Linked DNA regions of Homo sapiens: region 1 is linked to region 2. Evidence: fine-mapped expression QTL. A gene starts in region 2. The other region holds a variant in brackets. All regions are shown on one strand. Distances are between the middles of the regions.

Evidence for each region. PIP is the estimated chance that this variant, and not a neighbour inherited with it, causes the effect.
Region 1: its variant is fine-mapped to the expression of ASB4 in tibial nerve (GTEx, PIP 0.93).

What each region holds. Positions count from the first base shown.
Region 1 is chr7:95,394,750-95,399,154 of GRCh38, reverse strand. PON3 (paraoxonase 3) reads left to right here and starts at 2,780. Exons shown (of 9, transcript NM_000940.3): 1 at 2,780-2,878. The coding sequence starts at 2,805. It overlaps LOC107986822 (a long non-coding RNA gene), which reads right to left and starts at 2,683. Exons shown (of 2, transcript XR_007060439.1): 1 at 2,127-2,683. The variant A/G (reference allele first, on the strand shown) is at 1,714.
Region 2 is chr7:95,483,535-95,487,939 of GRCh38, reverse strand. It overlaps ASB4 (ankyrin repeat and SOCS box containing 4), which reads right to left and starts at 1,997. Exons shown (of 5, transcript NM_016116.3): 1 at 1,782-1,997. The coding sequence starts at 1,968.

The DNA.
Region 1 (4,405 bases), 89 kb after region 2:
CTAGATTGTTTATATATATATATATATATACACACACACACACACACACACACACATATGTGGATAATATGTAATTCCCCTAATTTTATACCTTAGAATTATACCACATGTATATTCTGCATCCCCCTTAATGGCATTTTGATTATCAATGGTGTGGGACTCCCTAGATCTATATATAGTATTGTGTTACTTACTGTTTAAACGTATAGCATTGAATTTGGTCTACATTAGCTCTTTGAAAGCCCCACTATACATATAAGGAAAGAAGGGTCCAGAGGTGGTGATAAGTGATTTCAAAAGATTAAAGGGCCAACTACAAATGGAATTGGATCTTGAATTTAGGCCTTTTGAATTTATCTGTCCTGCTCTTTCAAAGTCAACAAACCCCTTTTACAATACTGATGTACCTGTGGCCTCTTGACCAAGTCAATTTGGCCTATTGCCAAGAGCAGATTTAGATGGTGACACTCGATACAGTGGCCTCCAAAGTTTGGAATTCTTTAATGCTAATTTACCATGCTGGGGATTTGAATTACTGATTATGGTATTCGAATAAAAACTAACCACTTCTAGGGTTTAAAGTTAATGTATACACACACACACACACACACACACACACATGCACACACACACACAGAGACTCCTCTGCCTAAAGTGAAGAATTTTTAAACAAATTATAGCTAACACAGAACTTCAATCAATTGCCCAAGAATACGCTTCTTTCTTTACCCCCTTCTTCATGCTATGCTGCAAACACAGTGATAAGGAACATGAGCTCTAGAGTCACCTGATCTGAGTCCAGATGGAGGCACTGACACTTAGTTATGTAACCTTAAGTGAATTATTACTTTACCTCTCTAAGCCTCAAAGCCTCACTTTCCTTCTTTTTAGTCCCATCAAACTTGCAGCAAGCAATTCACTTTACTTCTTTGTAGGTAAGGTTAATAAGAAGTAATGTGACAAGGCATGCAAACGCTGAGTGAAATAATAATATGACTATTATTATTTCATTATTCATTCCATTTATTTTTTATTCTTCTAATTTTTCTTTCTCCCAAGTCCATATTTTACATCCATCCATCTAATCATATTTATTGAGTCATTATTAAGCACAAAGTTCTATGGATGGCACGGGAAAACCCAGTGATCAATGCGATGGAGTCCTTCCCACAGGAGCCTACAATCTCAAGCAAAGTTCAGAATTAATTAGTGGTTAATCTTTACTGACTTCATAAAACGTATCAAGCACAGTGCAGAGCACTTGACACTCATTATCACATTTAATTTTAAGCTACCTATGAGGTGGACGTTCTTTTACAGAAGAGGAATCTGTAGCTCAATAAAGCTGAGTACTTTATCTAGGCTGGATCCAAACCCAGGCAGCCTGACTCCCAAACCCTGCATGCATGTCTACATCACACCCCAGGCCCCTCAGCTCTGTGAGCCCTCCTGACTTCGATTCCTCCTCTGCTTGCACTCTTTTAACATTAGTCATCTTAACAAGAACTCTAATCTATACAATTCAAGACGTTACACTGTCCTTTTAATACAACCCTTCTTCCATAGATTTTCTAGAGGCAGCATGGTAGAGGCAGCTCAGTTAAGGGCCCAGATTTTGGAGTCTGCTGCTTGACAGCTGCCTGACCTACAGCAAGCCACATAAGCAATCTGTGCTGCAGGTCTCACCTGTAAAATTGGGGTAAGGCTACCCAC[A/G]CTCCAGAGATTGTGTTGATAATTAAATGCGTTAACATAGGTGTCAGCACAGGCAAAGCACACAGTCAGTACTGCATAAGCGGTGGGCTTCATTATTCATCCTGTAATTACGTATTCATACTAGAATCATGTATCCCATAGGTCAGGGACCACCTTTTCTTTCCTTAATACCCCCAGGATTGGCAAATCTTGCTCTCTCAACAAATAGTTTACTCGGTGGAACCTAACAGAACTAATATTTCTTTCTGTCCGTAAATAAAAATAGATCATGCTTGAATGTGCTACTTTGCCCGAACTCCCCAAGTCTTCCCGCATCTTCAGTTCCTCCCCCTCCAACCTGGTGTTCATCAGGAGAGGGGAAAGAGCATTTCTTGCCTGGCAGGAACTCAAGACCTAGAAGAAAGAGGGCCTACCCTGCCAAGGAAATGACCTTCCCCTTCCTCGCCTCTGCTCCTCTTCCCGTTTCCTGTCTTTTCCTTCTTTTCTCCTGGTGTTTCCTTCTCCCGTTAACTATGGGGACAGACGCAGCTATTCACAAGTCCGTCTGGGCAGCACACTCCGAGGTAAGGCACGAAGGTCAGGAGACAGGTTCCCGTGCCCCAAATCCTGGAGAAGATGAGTTAAAGCTCTTCGCTTCGATTGCCTTCGCCCTTCCCGCGTCTCGGGAGCAATTCAGTGTCGCCTCACGTCTGGCCTTGCAGAAGTCCGGAGTTCCGGCTCTGAACTGGAGCTCCCCGCCATTCCCGGGCCCTCCGGTTTCTCCCTCAGGCCATCTGAGGAATTGAGGTAGGATTTCGCGGGTGTTAGGAGCAAACTCCCACCACAACTCGGTCCCGGGCTCCCTCTCCGTTGAGCCTTGACCTCTGCCCAAAAAACAAGGAATCGTGGGCGTGAAGGCGGCCTTGAACCCGGGCGGCGGGGCTCGGCGGGACTCGTCAGCGCCCTGCTGCGGCACCCGGGCCGCTCAGGTAAGTAGGAGGCGTGTGCGGGCGGGGCCGAGCGGGCCCCAATCCGTACGCGAGGCAGGAACCGCCCGCCGCGCCCCCGAGAGCTCTCGGCGCCGCGCAGTCGCCGCTGGGCACCCCGAGACCATGGGGAAGCTCGTGGCGCTGGTCCTGCTGGGGGTCGGCCTGTCCTTAGTCGGGGAGATGTTCCTGGCGTTTAGGTGAGTGGCATCTTGACAGGGCGTCTTCGACTCTCTTTCTCTCCTCTTCCAAGTGAGGTCAGGGGCTGCCTGGCGCCCCCTTCCTAGCGGGTAGGAAAGAGCAGCTTTGGAACCTCACTCCTCCATCTCACCCAGCAAACCGCCCCTTGAGACTCGCTTATGGGGAAAGTGAGCTACTTGCGTTTCCAAAGACTGCCGAGCCGAATTAGTCCCATTTATTTTTTGAAGGTTATGATCCCCCACTTTGCTTTCTGAAGGTCATGACCCCCTTTTACTTTCTGAACGTGATGACCCCTTTCCCAGCTCGCCCTCAACATTCTGCTTGGGAAAAAAGGACGTCCATTGGAAACGCCGGACTTGGGAGAGAGGATCAGGCTACCAGTTGGATGTTTACGGCTGACTGAGACATTGCCCAGGTCTGGCTAACCATGCAGAAGTACTGGGTTATGGAACCTATCCTAGATTTAAAGAGCTGGCCAGACAGCAGGGCAAACCAGCTGAAACCTGCAGGCGGTAACTGGCATTTTGTAGGCATTTGACCTTTTGAAGTGGAAGATACAATGGTGATAGCCAGCCTAGAAATGTCTCAGGAAAAGTCAATACTGGGCTAGAAAGAAGAACCTTTAAGTGATAATACACATTCATGAGTGGATCGAAAGCCTCTGCTTGCTTTCAGTTGTCTTTGAGTGTTTATGTATTTCTCTTAGTTGAAGCTGGTCTTCTTAGAGGATCACGTCTAGAATCTGTTGAGGTGCCTGGTGCCTATTAGTAATACTTCCAGTTTGAGAGTTTTATTGTTACATTTGCTCCCAGTGCAACCACATGGAGAATCATAAAATAATAGTAATAATAATAAAGTAGATCTAAGGGTATTTTTTTAAATAAATGACTGTAAGATAAGTATTGAGTCTTTCTGAATATACTTTAATAAAAATTTTAAATTATCCCTGATATTAGAAGAATGTGGAAACATTCCTTTTCACTCTGGAAACAAGAAAATTGTGTTGAAAAATAAATCGGCCAATTGTTTAAATTGTGGTTGGTTTAATGAATTTACATACTTGCGGAGTAAGTCAGCATAAAATTTAAAAATTAAAGCAAAAGTGATAGAGTTTGACTATTAGGAGACCCTGTTGAATTTTGGGAAAGCAGTTTGGAAGGAAAAGTTCAAAGGGCAAGACTGTAGGGGATTAAGTGCAGATTTATAACAGACGATACTTTAGAAAATTAGGGCTATTTCGTGCATTTAAATTAATAATATTGTTCAATTACTCATACTATTAAATAGTGTCTTTTATTTGGGCAGCAGAATTTTCCATGTTGAATCATATTATACAGTTTTTCAGCAATAACTGGGTAAGGTTAGCTGATATAGGTAAAATACCCACATAATGTCTACATTATGTAAATAAACATGAAAGGAAGTACCTACTTACTTGTTATGTCATTCATAAATTATGATAAAGATAGTTAACCAACACGAAGATGATTGAAGTCCACATTTAAACATACATTTTGAATGCTGTG
Region 2 (4,405 bases):
TCTACACATGAGTGCAGACACAAATTTCCTGCATAAACCCTAAAAGTAAGACCACAAATTTTACTAGTTCTGTGCAAGCATCCACTTGGCATACATAAGAATGGAACTGTTCTTTTCCTTTTCCAGAGGGTGTAATTTGCTATCTCCCTAATTGAAAGCCACATCCCACAGTCCTAACACTATGAAAACACCTCAATTCGTGGGAATGAAAATTTAGCTCTATGAGGACCATAGGAGTCAGCTCATATTGACAAGAAGAATTTAAAATGTATTTTCTTTTCCTTCAAGGAAGATGACACCGGTGGAAGTAGGAGAACCAACCCCACCTCTCCCCTCCACTTCCCTAGAGCCTGCACCTAAAACTTGGTTTCTTATATCCTCAGAAACTTCCCACAATCTGTGCAACTTGGCCTGCTCAGATGAGAGAAGACAGTCTTTGCAACTCAGGGTCAAATAACTTACCCACTGACTTGAACCTGAGTTATTTCACCCTAGGCACAAATATAAGCTTTTTAAAAACATCTTAAAAATTAGTTTAGCATTCAGACATTCTATCACTGAACAAAATTATAAGATGAAAGCAATCTGATTATATAGTATACAAATTTTCTAACAGACCCCATAAACTTTTTAAAAAATAGATCCCTTCTTTGTCTTCCCATCAAAATATTAATGCCATTAATGCCAAAATATTATAAAGCCCTTGAGTAAAAATCATAAACATAGTAACTAGCCTGAGCTCTTCTATATGTCCCTCAGAACTGACAATCGGAGGACAGTAAATTAATGAAGAAATATATACTGTACCATTAGCATTTGTATCTGGAAATGTATTATACTGATGATTTATAGATGGCCAGAAATCATTTTTAAACATTAAAATAATGACTGTCTCTAAATGCTATACACAAGACCTTAGCATCTATATTGTATTAAACATTAGTGATGTTGAGCAGCATGTTTGCAGTATGCTCGCCAGATGATCTAACTACTCACGTTCCCCCAATTAACCAGTTGATTTGGGAAATCAGAATCAGTGGAACTCTAATTCATTTCTGATTTATTAAGCATGGGTTCCAGAAAATTCCTTGGTAAAAAAAAATTGGTCTAATTTTTGTTTTCCTTAGGTCGTTATAAGACAGATATTCTGTATTAAACACATCTACAATTTTGAACAATTATTGTAGTCCAGGAAAAAAGTTAACTTTTTGGTTTTGCTGAATTCAGCTTTTGTGCCTGAACTGAAAACTCATTAAAATGAAGAAGACCATGAAGGTGCCTGTGGCACCGCTTTATCCATTTATTAACCCTCCAAATGTTGGGGAGATTCCTCTTTTTCATCCACATGGACATAGAGAGGATATATCTTTAAGTAGCTGTTAATGGAGAATTAGCAGCGTGTTCTTAAACCAGGTACATTGTCTAAGATAGGGTTTCAACAATCTGCTTAGCCATAATCTAAAAATGTTTTCTTCCTTCTATATCATCATAGTCAGAAGAAAAGTTAAAAACAGAGAGAGTGCATTGCTAAAAATGATTGTCTGGGATTTCAAGTCCTAGGCCCAAGGGTGGGAAAAGAAAAGGAGAGACACGACTTATACATATATATCAGCCCACAATGTGTTTTAGTTTAAAAAGAAAGAAAATATCAATTTAGAAATATTTTTTAAATGAATACTTAAAGAAACAATAAAAACTACTGTTTAGAGTGGATAACTGACACTGTGCATTTTTTTAAATCATTTTCTAACAGTTCTACAATAACACCTATATGTTTTTACCTTGTTTATAAGATGCCAAAACCATATTCTCATCTTCGACTTCAAAAACAGTGTCCACATCTATTTGCCTTTGGATCAAAATAGCCTTCAATTTTCCGAAGTCATTGGACTTTAGCGCCTCAAGGAAATTTCTCTTAACTAACTTGGCAGCTCCAGATTTAGTGACAGGGGCAGTGGTGCCGTCCATCCTTCCTCTCCCTCTGGAAGCTTTGTTGTGATTTATCGAGAGAACAGCACCGAGCAAACAGGCGCATGCTGGAGAGTCCACAAACTGTCGGCTAATTTTATCCCAAAGTTATGCTGATCCGTTCTATTTATATAGGGATCATTTCAAACTTCAAAATATCCTTCTTGGCTGTCACTACATTTTCAGGTCCTTTAAACTGGTTATATATTAACTGATCCATTCAGTAATATATAGTGTCAATATGAACGAAAGCCCCCGTGATACATTTCCAGGCATGAAATGTCACAATTATTTCTTATATGATCAAAGTAATAATATAAGATTTAAAAGCTCTTAATGCTCTTTTTTTCCCCTCAATAAAAACATCTGGTGCCTGGCTGGAGATCCAGCGTCTTGCTCTGACAAGCCAATATCCAAAAATGAAAATCTGTTACAGTTGTGGATACATTTGCTTCTAAAAACCTGTAATAATTTTGCAATATGAGCTTGTAAAATCAACCATTGTCATACATATCTGAAGACAAACAGGAGGTTTTCAAGTGACCTAGACTTGAAAAATTTTAATATGAAAAGCTGGGAAGGGAGGAGGTGGGGAGACGGTCCGGGGCAGGGACTCTTTTAGGTAAAAAAGAAACTGAAGAGATAAAACATTTAAATGCAACATGTGAATGAACTTTATTGAATCCTGTTTTTTAATCAGCTAGAAAAGACAGTATTGTGGAACTATAAATGTGGACTAGATATTACTTGACAATATAGAAGTGTAATGATAAATGTGGTTATGTAAAAAAAATTCTTACTCTTAAGTGATACATTAAGGGATAAATTGTCATGATGTCTAAAACTTCTTTAAAAATAGCTCAGAAATGCAGACAGATAAATAGATGTGTGTGTATGTGTATATACATATATATACATATATACACATATATATACATATATACATATATACACATATATACACACACATATATACATATATACACATATATACATATATACACACATATATATATGTGTGTGTAAATAGAAACAGAGAGATAGCAAGTGTGGCAAAAACTTAAAGACTTGGTGAATCTAGTAAGGGATATATTGGTATCCATTACATTATTCTTTCAGCTTTTCTGTAAGTTTGAAATTTTTCAAATAAAAAGTTGGAGAGAAAAGTATACACTTAATTTTTCTTACATAAAATCATTAAAAATTAGGAAAATTATAATAGCAAGTTCTAAAGAGAATGCAAATAAATTGCATTTTTATATGTCGTTTGTGGAAGTCAAAACTGGTGCAAACTTTCTGCAGAATAATTAAAAACATGAATTTTTAAAAACTTACAATGATACTATTTGATTCTTAGAATTTACTTAAGCATGTAAATGATGCAAATCACAACATAATTTTAAACTTATTTTATTGATGTGTAATATAAATGCAAGAAATTGGCAAGTTACAGGTATACAGCTTGTCAAATTTTTAGTGAACAAACTCATGTAATCAACATTGAGGTTAAACCATAGACTAGTTCAAGTTTACCTGAAGCCCCCTTTATGTCCTCTTCTAATCAAAACACCTGCCTCAAAGAGATAACAATAAATCTTAACTTCTAATACTATAGATTAGTTTTGTTTGTTATTTTTTTTTGAGACAGGATCTCACTCTGTCACCAGACTGGAGCACAGTGGTGTGATCTGGGCTCACTGCAACCTTTGCCTCTCAGGCTCAAGCCATCCTCCCACCTCAGCCTCTGGAGTAGTTAGGACTATAGGCATGCAACCAGCACATCTGGCTAAATTTTGTGTGTTTTTTTGAAGAGACAGGGTTTTGCCATGTTCCCCCGGCTGATCTCCGACTCCTAAGTTTAAGCGAACCTCCTGCCTCAGCCATCCAAAGCGCTGGGATTACAGCCATGAGCCACTATGCCTGACAATTTTTTTTTTTTTTTTTTACTTTTTAATGTTAAACATTTTACAATTTTTGAAGATTTTAAATTATATAATTTTTGAAAAATAGCAACAACAAAAAGAGCCATATATGGAAATACTTCCTCAACCAAGGGATTGGCTCCCAACTGACTCTCTGTGACACACTGCTTTTGTTGAAATTGTATTGGCATTTTTAGGGAGCACTTTGCAAGTCTGTTTTATGCTATTGTTATGATTCTTTCCACAAATACCCATCGAGTATCTACCATTTGTCAGACACTTATTCTGGGCACTGCAGATACAGCAGTGAACAAACACAGAAATCCCTGCCCGTGTGTAACTTAGCTCACTAACAGATTTAAGTGGCGATGGGAATCCCTAGATCGCCTCCATTTCCCATACACTAGAATTTGTCACAAAGCTGCAAATATACTAAATTTCATACAAAAATAATATAGTTTGTTTATATCTAATCATTTGATCTGATCCCCCATTATGGGTCTCCCCACCTAACT